3 linked regions of the Homo sapiens genome follow. The protein of the gene in region 2 interacts with the protein of the main gene of each other region in a pairwise test. Each region holds a gene or a part of one and is shown on either strand. Other genes may lie near its edges.

Region 1 (3,500 bases), on a different chromosome or scaffold from region 2:
TCTTAAGTCCGCCAATGGATGAATGGATAAAGAAAATGTGGTATGTATACATAATGGAATATTATTCAGCCATAAAAAAGAATGAAATCCAGTCAGTTGCAACGACATGGATGGAAGTGAAGGATATTAAGTGATATAAGACAGGCACGGAAAGACAAATATCCCATGTACTCACTCATATGTGGGAGCTAAAAAATAAATAAATAATCTCATGGATATAGAGAGTAAAATAACAATTACTAGAGGCTGGGAAAGGAAGTGGAGAGAAGGGATAAAGAGAGGTTGGTCAATGTACAAAAATACAATTAGAAGGAATAAGTTCTCGTGTTCAGTAGCACAACACAGTGACTAAACAGTAATGTATTGTATATTTCAAAATAACTACAAGGGTAGTATTAGAATGTTACTAACTCAAAGAAACAAACGCTTAAGGCGATGGACATCCCAACAACCCTGATTTGATCATTATACACTGTATGCTTATATCACAATATCACATGTACCCCATAAAGATGTGCAACTATTACATATCCATAAAATTTAAAATTAAAAAAAGATACAATTCTATTGCAAGAATAAGGAAGAAAATAAAAAAACTAAACCTATATCCACCATCATAGAAAATTAATGTTAATTTAAGCTTGAAAAATCACCAAATAGCAATACAGAATTCATATTTAGAAATATAAATAAAACTATAGAATAATCAGCTGAAAGACTTGAAAGTGTTTGCTTCTTCAGGGTGGCACTAGAAGGAAAGAGAAGCACAAGGTGCTATTGTATATTGTGGTAAGTTTTCAGTGCAATGCAGTTTATGTCCATGTTTGATTTCAAAATCATCCCCCTCTCTCCTTTGCTCTGCTGTGTATGGGACAACCATACAGAGCTGATCTCTGCAAACAGCATTTCCCAGGATCCCTTGTGAATCCATTTCTGGCCCATTTCGGCCAATCAGAGGCACTGCCAGAAAATCGAAGACAAAGGAGAGAAGCCAAGGTATTTCTCCCCTTCTCTCTCTGCCCTGTTGCTATCTCTGGCATATTCTCCTCGAAGGCTCAAGTTCCCCGTTTACAGCAAGGCCTCTAAAGTTCTAGGTCAGGCTTGGTGGTTCCAGCTCTTGGGCTCCTGTCTTTGGAACTTAAGCCTAGGGACAGTGGCAACTTACAACACCAGATAATTTATCTTCCCCTGGTGGCTCCTTAAGGTCTTCTAACAGCTTTTTAAATTTTTTTCTTATATTAAATTTTCTAATTCAATACTAGTACTAATTTTTTTTTTTGAGCTGGGGTCTCACTCTGTCACCCAGGCTGGAGTGTAGTGGCCTGATCATGACTCACTGCAACCTTGACCTCCTGGGCTCAAGCGATCCTCCTGCCTCAGCCTCTCAAAGTGCTGATATTACAGGTATGAGCCACTGTGCCCCTGCCACTAATACTAATTCTAATGTAATACAACAGTTTTGATTTTCTAAATGGGCCTAATATAAGTAACTATTTGATATTTTCAGATACAGGTGTCAGAAAATATTGACAAAGATTCTCTCATTGATCAAACTCCACTCGAGCTATTCCATGTTCTTTTTCAACTATTCCTCAACTTTTGGACTTCCTTGTTTGTCTCTACGTTGTCCAATTTTAGCAAGAGTCCTACTAAGTCAAGTCAGCCATTCTCCTTATCTGATCATCCTCATATCTGATTAGGTTCCTCATCCTTCACCATCCTCCAGGTGATGTCTGATCACCCTGGCCTGCCTTCAACAAGAATCCTGTTAGGTCAGTTTGGCCAGAATCCTCTCTTATTCCTAATGTTGCCCCCTAGTAATTTTCCATCCACCAACCACACCCACATCCTTGTCTATAAATTCCCGCTTTTACTTGTAGTATATAGAGTAGAGCCCAATCTCTCTCCCCAACTGCAAGACTCCATTGCAGTGCTCCCTGTACCTATCTGTAACAAGTGTCTTCCTTACCATCTTTAACAATTGTCATGAATAATTTTTTCCTTAACAGCATAAATTTCTAAAAGTTTAAATACATAAATATATTTCACAATGCTTAAGAAATTCTTAAAGAAAAAAATTAGAAAACTGGCAGAATCACTTCAAAGGATCTTATATTCTCCTAACTGTTTACTTTGAATGAAATTCTCAGAAGTTCACTTATGGCTTGTTAAAAGCAACTGCATTACCCTACAACACTGCAAATATGAAATAAGTAAAATATTATATCCCCAAATAAAAGAGTAGAACTTACTTTTTCTAAGAATTTATATTTGTCAAACTGCATTTGTGTTTTTAACTCCAATGTAAATAAGTACTTCAGTAGCAGATCTACTGAATATCTCAATACAATTTGATAGATCACTGCTTTTTCCTAAAAGAGTTAATAGTGCAGCTAAAAGGAAAAACTCAGCAATTTCCCTCTTTTTTAGTATATATTTAATTTTCATAAATAATTTTTTAAACCATATAGAAGAGCATACAAGGAAAACCAAGTCTCCCCCATATCAATTATATTCCCCATAGGCAACCAATACCAATGTCTTATGCGTCCCTTCAGAATTCATTTGTGCAGTTATAAACATATATCCACATTTGCCTGTAAAATAAGGATAATTACAACATTTACTGTTATTAAAATTTCTGTAAGGCTTAAATAAGAAAAAACAAAATGTTTAACTTTATTAAGTGCTTAATATCAGTTATTAATACTTTCCAATAAAATATTTTAAAATAAAAAACTTAAATTTGAACTTTAAAATGAACCAGAAGTTTTGAGAAAGAGAGAGAGACAGAAAGAAAAGAAAAGAAAGGAAATAAGTCACTGCTGTTTTCTTATGAGTCAGTGCTTTACCAGCAATAATTTTATCCTAAAAGGCAAGATTCCAGGGCCACTCTCCTTCATTACCCTAGACAAGACTATCAAACTATCTTTTCTCCTTCCAAAACTTAAGCCCAATACATAATTAGTTAGGTAATCTTCACCATGCTATATAAATTATTTAACAGGTGTTTTCCCCCAAAAGGGGATGACACTATATGGAATTTGTTCAAATTCTAACATCCAATAACTTTATCAGGCTACTAGAATGGTCTGGGTAAATGATAATGGCATCTTAAACCTGATTCATTATACCTATTATGGGTTGAATTGTGTCTCCCAAAAACATATGTCCAAGTCCCAGACCTATGAATGTCAATGTATTTGGCAACAGGGTATTTGAAAATGTTATCAGATTAAGATGAGGTCACTGGGGTGGACCCTAATCCAATGTGACTGGTAGCAGTCATTATAAGAAGAGAAAGAGAGAGAATGATGACAGAGGCAGAGGCTGGAAGGATGAAGCTGCAAGTCAAGGAACACCAAAGATGAACAGCCACTGCCAGAAGTTAGGAAGGGGCAAGGAAAGATTCTATTCAGAGCCCTCAGTTGGAACCAATCCTGCTGACACCTGGATTTTGGACTTCTAGTTCCAGAACTGTGAGAGAATAAATTTCTGTC
Region 2 (4,074 bases):
GCAAATGAAACATACTGTGAAACAGCTTGTGAGATGAGCTTCATCAACAATAAGTAATTTTTATTCAGATTTTATCGTTGAATACAATGAACATGATTAAATGTTTCAGATATGCCTATTCAGACCTCAAGCAAACCATTAAAAAATAAAAACTACTAAAAATCATCTTCTAAATCTGCTTTAGGAAGAGATTTAATTGCCAACTCGATGTGTAGAATTGAATTCCTACTTGATAGCAGCACCGTTCCCAAGAAGATGGTCACAACATATTTGCACTTCCCACTTCGGCCTCTTTTCTCATCCCTGCGGATCCTCCCAGCGTTGCCAAATAGTTACAAAGTCAGTCCTTTCAAACCACTGCATTTTGAACTTCCTAAACCTTTAAGAGAGCCTTTGTGTATGGAAAAGAACAATAGCGCTTCAAAAGACATTTCTGCGAGTTCTTCAATATTCCATTTGAATGCTGGGGTTTCAATCAAGGACATCAGCAGACAATTTCTGATTGCTTAGAAGTTGACTTTTATACAGCTTTGATTAGGTGCCCTTCTCAATAGGAAATCAAGAAAATCTTTGATCACTTTCAGTTCCCAGAATTGTCACCAAGCCTTGTCAGGATAGGGAGTGAAAGAGATGGGGGGTGGCGGGGGGGGGGGTGGCGGGGGGGGGTGCCTACTCCTTCTGACATCTCCGAACCCCCATCTATCTTAGTGCCTGCGCAGTTCCGGTGCCATCCAGAATCACTCATCACGGAGATCACAAAAACAATGGGTGCTAATTCAAGGGGTGGGGATGGTTTGTAATTTTATGGATTTCCCAAAGACCTATAATTGGCACATAAATGTACCAACGTGAACTGGATAATTAGGCGGTTCTGAACGTAAGCCACCTTTAATTTAATTGATATGATTACTTGAAAACGTTAAGTGTTGTAAAGTGTAGTGGAACCCCCACACAGCCTTTATTCAAAACTATCAACACTGTTAAAGTGTATTTAACCGGCCAGCAGGAAGGGAGCAGGAAGGAGGAAGAAACGACGGCGCGGATTCTCGCCCCGGTCCCCGCCGGCTGGCTAGGAGCTGCACTGGAGCATCCAGCTCGCAGGAGGGCTCGCCCCCGGGCTCGCCCCCGTCCAGCTCCCAGGCGGAGAAAGGCGCTCTCGCTACCGCAAGCCCTACATCGCCCCTCTTTCTAATGGAGCTAAACACAGGCGTGCGCCGACATCCAAACGCACACGCAGACACCGACCCACGCGGGCGCGCACCCCAGACTCGGCGACACATACACACCGGAGCGCACAGATGCCCGCGTCGCGGCGCTCTCCACTCCGCCCGCCGCCAAGAGCGGAGCGGTAGCCAAGCGCCCCCGGCCTCCCCACCCCCACGCCATTCCTTCAGACTCTCCCAGCCTAAGCGGAAGTGCCCCAGCAGACCCCCAACAATGAGGATTTGTGCGATGCAGTTGGGGGTTGGGGGTAGTTCACACGGAGTGAAACGTACACAGTCTGGCGGGTCTGGGAGCAGCCAAGTGGCGTCCGCCTCTCCAGGCAGCGATCCCTTGTGCCCACTGCCCCCCATCAGGCCCACCAGCACCACCAAAAAACAAAAACAGAGAAAAGAAAAAGCGCCTTAAAAAGTGCAGAGAAAAGATGCGCCCTCCCACCAGGGGTCACAATAATACTCCTCGGGACGCAGCCAGCGGAGGCAGGGTCCTGGCTGCAGCAGCCACCCTGGTTTTGAAATTTACTTTGTACACTCACCCAGTGGCCCCTTTCAGACGCCGCGACACGACCTCCCCCCATCTCGGACTCCCTGCCTCTGGGTTCTCTCGGCGGTTGACACCCTCTTGTGTGCCTGCTTTATGAGCCGAACCACAGAGATTTAAAGTTTCCTTGGTAGAAAAAAAAACTGAGCTCTCTGCATCCAAGTCAGAGCGTCGAGTCTGGAGCAGAGAGAAGGAAGAGGGGCGGGCTGGGGAGGCGACTAGCTGGGCGTGGGGGGAGGGGGTGCTGGGGAGTGGATGGAGGGGGACGAGCGGCAGAGAACAGAGTCCACAGAGGATCCGAAGAAAGGCCGGGGTCCGAGGAACGCGGGATCCAGTTCTCACGGTGCCCGCGAAAGGGCTGGGATTACTGGGATAGAGTCGGTTTTTCGAGAGGTCGAAGCCGAATCTCAGCGCTACGGAGGAGTAGGGAAGTGAGAACGGGGTTCGGCCGAATGAGGAAAAGGGTCTGGCCACCAGCGAGGGAGGGAGGGAGTTTCGGGAGCCCAGGACAGCGGGAGAAGGCAGGCTCGAGGTCCGATATAGCCAGGACCGCAGGAGGAAAGAGGGCGCAGGGGGTCTTGGAGAGAGACGCGTGTCAGGGGTGGACAAGTCTGGAGACAGGATCGCGCGTGGTCGGAAGTAGGGAGACAGGGGCGCGGGGATGGGGGGCAGGACAGAGAAAGAGAAGTCGCCCTTTTCCTCCCAGCAAGTGGAGGGAGAAGGCGAAAAACTGCTGCAGTCGCCATCCTCCCAGCACCCCTAGCCAAACTGCTGAGTGGCGCGTCCCAGGAGCCCTCCTCCGCGCCCCGGGGCTCCAGCGAAGCCTCCTGGCTCCCCGGCGCCCTGTCCTCGCGGGGCACCTGCGGCGCTGAACTCAAGGGTTGCCGCGCGCCCCCGCCGCGCCTCACCTCGCCTAGCCCAGAGCATCCTCCTCCGCTGCCGCAGCCGCCCAGGAAGCGGCTCCCCATGCCCGGCGGGCGGCGGCACTCAGGCGCGCTCTGCAGCCCGGGGAAGCCCGGGCGAGCGCCGAGCTGGGTCCATCCTCCCCGGGAGCCACCGGCCCCGCGTCAGAGTAGGGGGAGGAGACCGCCACCCGCGCGGACCCGCCTCCTCCCGCGGCCCCCCGCCCCGCCGCCCCCCGCGCCCGCCCGGCGCCCCGCGGCACCGCTCACCTGCTAGCTCCCCGGCCGCCGCCGCCGGGCCGTGAGCCCCTCGCCCCGGCCTCGCGGCTCCCTCCGGGGCGCTCTCTGCGCAGCCGGAGCGCGCTCCGAGAGCTTAGCCGAGTGGCGGTGGCGACGAGGAGGTGGAAGAACGAGCGAGCGAGCGAGCGAGCGAGCGGGGGCGCCGCGGCTTGCAGTCGCGCCTCTGGAGCCCCTGCACTCTCTCTCCATCCCAGCGTGGAAGGGGGAGAGACGAGCCGAGAGCGAGGGGTCCCCGCCCCAGCCGCGCCAGCGTGGAGAGGGTAAGGGAGGGGGGTTGTCACAAAGTATCCAGTGTTTTCTCCCCCATCACCACCACTGGACGCAGCTCCGCCTGGCCTCTCTCATTTTTCTCTAAGATCTACCCTTTTATCCAAGCCTCGAAAACATATGCATACCCAAATATATGGAGTGCCAGGAAGGGCGAAACCACGAGGGGAGTCTCCGCGAGGGCATGTTGCCCCCACGCCCCTTGGCAGGAGGGGGCGCTCGCTCCCAGCCGCCAGTGCAGGTTCGGCGGCTCCTGTTTTGACTGAGGTTTCCCAGGCAAAGTTCGGCAAGTTGGGAGGGAGAAGGCTGGCACGTGTCAAGTTTCCGTCAGTCCTCAGGAGAGACCCGTGCCCCTGAGAGCACGCAGACCACGGTTAACTCCGGCTTACTCCCCGCGACTCCCCTACTCGGCTCTTAGAATGACTGGGAGTAAACAATCCTCCGATTCGAAGCTGTGCGGGAGGCGGCTCCAGCGAGTACACAGTCAGTTGCTCCTTGCTTAGGGTCCTAGCTCACAAAGATCCTAGAAACACCAAGTCGCAGAAAATATTGGGTCATTCTGAAAATTCTTCCACCTTGAGACTAGATTCAACTCCAGAAAATTCCTGTTGTGTGGCATACCTGTCTCCAGAGGCCTGAAATGCAGGAGAAGAGAGGAGCCTGGTGAATCAAATCAAGTGCATAATATGTAGATTCGCACAGCACACAAACCACCCTGTTGGACCCAGGTGCAGAAAAGGAAAGCAAGAGGCAGGCAACCCTTCCTTAAAAAGTTTACCGTTACTCTTTTTGGGGCTACACTCCTGTCTTCCAGCTGTATAATAACAAAGATAATGTGATGGAT
Region 3 (3,500 bases), on a different chromosome or scaffold from region 2:
TCATGAGGGCAACACAGACAATAAATCCATAGATAGAGTGTTGGCAGACAGAGAAAAGCACTATAGGCTAGAAAAAGCAAAGGAAGGGGACTGGGAGCTGCTGGGGTTGGGAGGTGGGGAGCGAGAACCTCATCAAGAAGGGGGTAATAATCTTTAAAGGCAGGACAGTGTGTATTTCTTAACCGACGCTGTTCAGAATCTGAAGATATGCCTACATAATTGTTCAGGTAATTGTGCAGATAAAACATAATTAAATGTAAAAAATGTGAAAAGACTAGTTGGCATTCTGGAGTTCAAATAACCAGCTGATTGACTTATTCTTTTGAGGTTCTAATTGTACAAACTTTTGCTGTCCACTACAGTTGACCACATGTGACAATTTACATTTAACTGAATTAAAACAAGATATTTAACTTTGTTTGCATTAGCTGCATTTCAAGCGCTCAAGAACCACATGTAGTTATTGCTTCCATACTGAATAATGCAAATACAGAACGTTTCCATCTCTGCAGAAAGTGCTGTTGTGCTCTGTTTGCCTAGACCATGTAACATCATCAGCATAACTGATTGTTTCACCTCCCCTGTCTTCCAAATAAGGCTGTATAACATGACGTTACATTGACACCCACATATTTGGCAGGAACGAGGGGAAAAGTCACAGTCACATTAGGTATCATTATAGCCACTGCCATACTCTCGGTTCTAGAGTTTTAACATTTCAGACATTTAGCATTTGATACTTCTCTGCAATTAGCAACTATTGCCTCCAGCTGGCAGTAAATGCCATCCACATCAGATACCAACTTTGAAACTATGATAGAAAGCTTACACAGAAGCCTATCAAATTTATGAGTGAGGAATCATCCTGACCTGTTTATAAGCAATCTAGAAGTACATAATTGGGACAAAACTATCAATGTAGGCAGCCAGGTGTAAAATAATAACGACCGAGAGAAGACAATCTTACAAAGTGAAATACAAAACAAACACTCAGATAACATGGGCATAATTAGCAAGTTTCTCATCAGCCCTGGTATGTACTGGAAGGTTTCATTTGCATTTTCCTTCCTAACACACCCTGAATCGCATTTTGAAATAAAGACATCTTGTTAGCTGGCAAACCATTCTTCCAAGATGCTCTGGTATCAAAAGACCTACCAGTTGACTTCAGCTTTTAAGTGCAAGTCATGTATTTAGACAATGTATTTAGTCATTTTGCCTATACTGTTGGATTGAATAGGAAGCAGTACAGTGGTCATTTTCTTAACTGGTAAATAAAGAATAATGAGTTCATACCTTTTGAGGCTTTGTGATTGATTAATGTGTGCTAACTTGGCCAAGTTCCTGGTATGTATTCAATAAATGGAAAGTGACGAAATGTTTAGAATGATGGCAAGTTTTTTAAATACCAAAAAGAGAAATAAACCTCCTTTGAGAAACACGAAGGAAAGGTTTTCATTTGCTTATTTTTAAAGTGTTTACACATCTTTACTGAGCAACTGCTTTGTGTTGGACACATAAATCAGCCCTCCTTGTCACATGCAATTCCAACTTTAGTGCATGACACCAATAGAGAAAAACAATCATAAATAGAATCATTTTGTCATTGTCTTTTGTTGTTGTTTTCTTGGAGTTGGGTCTTGCTCTGTCACTCAGGCTGGAATGCCATGGCACAATCACGGCTCACTGAAGCCTTGAAATCCTGGGCTCAATCTTGCCACATCAGCCTTCCAAGTAGCTAGGATTACAGGCATGAGCCATTATACCCAGCTAATTTTTATTTGCAGAGCCTGGGTCACACTAAGTTGCCCAGGCTGGTCTTGAACCTCTGGCCTCAAGTGATCCTCCTGCCTCTGCCTCTGCCTCCCAAAGCACTGGGACTACAGGCGTGAGCCACCATCCCCAGAGACTGGTAAATGTTGGGATAAGAGGCAATCACAAAGGGCTGAGTAACCTTAAATCAAGGTCATATGACACTGCTGGAGGTTCAGCCAGGCTTGCCAATTCTGGAGGTTAAACGTTAAGTGGGAGATGTCTAAGAGAAGAGGTGAAAAGGACTGAGGCTATTCCAAGACAGGGCAGTGCATGTGCAGATGTGCAGAGATGTGAAATGATGTCTTGGATTCAGGAGAGTATGTGTGGACTCCAGCACCACTGGTCAGATGAGGCATGTATGAAGGGAAGGCAGGAGGACAGGTTTCAAAGATAGTCAAGGGGCTAGATCAAAGGACACTGTGCAAAGCAAGAGTCTGAGCTTCATCCTAAGAGCAATAAGGAGCCACCTAAGGGTCACAGCAGGAGTGTGGTATGACCAGCTTGTAACACAAATGATAAATGTCTGTTTAACAGTTGGCTCACTCACTGACCGAATGAATTATTAGTACACGAATAAACAAATGCATGAAGAAGTGTACAATCAATGTCGCCGCCTTCATGTGATAGTCGAAGAGCAACACTGTAACACTGAAACCCAAACAGAGCAGAATTTGCGTTTTCTCCGCTGAGAATACGAGGTTTGGTGCCACGTCCATGACACAGAAATGAGCTCGAATCCTGCAACTGTCACTTTTCAGAAGTTAAGGGGTTTTAGTACTCTACACCCAGACTCGGAGTTTACAGATGCTGTAGCTGAAACCCTAAGCTTCCAGTCCATTCTCTTCCATCCTGTTAGAAGTTCCCGTTTCAATGCAAAAACAAAATGAGCTCCTTCTTATCCTGAGAAGGAAACATAGATTTGGATTTGTGTATAACTGCTGGATGTTTCAGTTTAATGAACCTAATTAGGAATTACAGAGATTATGATTAAACATATTAAATGATTAATAGCATTATACCGCTCATGTGAAAATTAAAATTAATCATCTCTAGTCAAACAGCACTTTGGAGAAATCTTTGCATTGTTTCCTTTGATAAAAACATACAACGCTCAATTAATCATTTTGTAGTGTATGCTTATATACAAATGCGTATAAACTGTTATGGAGAAATACCTGTGTATTAAAAAGAATCCTTAAAGCATGCAAAATAAAAAAGTAAGCCAAAAGTGTTTCAGGTCATTGTGGGTGTATGGAAAGGGAAAAAGAAGAGTGTTAGGAAGTAGAGGTTGAGGAGTGAATAAAACAACAGAAAAAGGAAATCTCTTTCAGCCTGCATGCCTTTTATATGGTGGGATGCAGCACAATGAACCAGGGTTTTGGAATCACACAGACCATCCCTGTTATTTGCTAATCTTAGGCAGGTCACTTTTCTTCTCTGACCTTCACTTTACTTTTCCATCAAAGGACATTAATGGGGTAATGGGGCTAGGTGCAGTGGCTCATGCCTGTAATCCCAGCACTTTGGCAGGCTAAGGTGGGAGGATCATTTGACACCAGCCTGCAACATAGTGAGACCCTGTCTCCACTAAATAAATTAAAAAAAAAAAAAATAGCTGATCATGGCCATGTGCCTGCCATCCCAGCTACTTGGGAGACCGAGGTGGGAGATGGCTGGAGCCCAGG

The links. Proteins that work in one complex are often made in the same cells at the same time.
Region 1: the proteins of DAB1 (region 2) and USP53 interact in a two-hybrid assay, tested with the Homo sapiens proteins (one large-scale study listed by BioGRID).
Region 3: the proteins of DAB1 (region 2) and RBFOX1 interact in a two-hybrid assay, tested with the Homo sapiens proteins (one large-scale study listed by BioGRID and IntAct).

Annotation. Positions count from the first base shown.
Region 1 is NC_000004.12:119,219,213-119,222,712, reverse strand, and holds part of USP53 (ubiquitin carboxyl-terminal hydrolase 53), read right to left. Parts: intron 1-3,500. UniProt on the Homo sapiens protein: Deubiquitinase that mediates 'Lys-63'-linked deubiquitination of tight junction proteins, such as MARVELD2 and LSR, and which is involved in the survival of auditory hair cells and hearing.
Region 2 is NC_000001.11:57,421,261-57,425,334, forward strand, and holds the start of DAB1 (disabled homolog 1), read right to left. Parts: upstream 2,801-4,074; 5' UTR 2,670-2,800; intron 1,853-2,669; exon of another isoform or gene 1,757-1,852; intron 1-1,756. UniProt on the Homo sapiens protein: Signaling adapter of the reelin-mediated signaling pathway, which regulates the migration and differentiation of postmitotic neurons during brain development.
Region 3 is NC_000016.10:7,576,024-7,579,523, reverse strand, and holds part of RBFOX1 (RNA binding protein fox-1 homolog 1), read right to left. Parts: intron 1-3,500. UniProt on the Homo sapiens protein: RNA-binding protein that regulates alternative splicing events by binding to 5'-UGCAUGU-3' elements. Regulates alternative splicing of tissue-specific exons and of differentially spliced exons during erythropoiesis.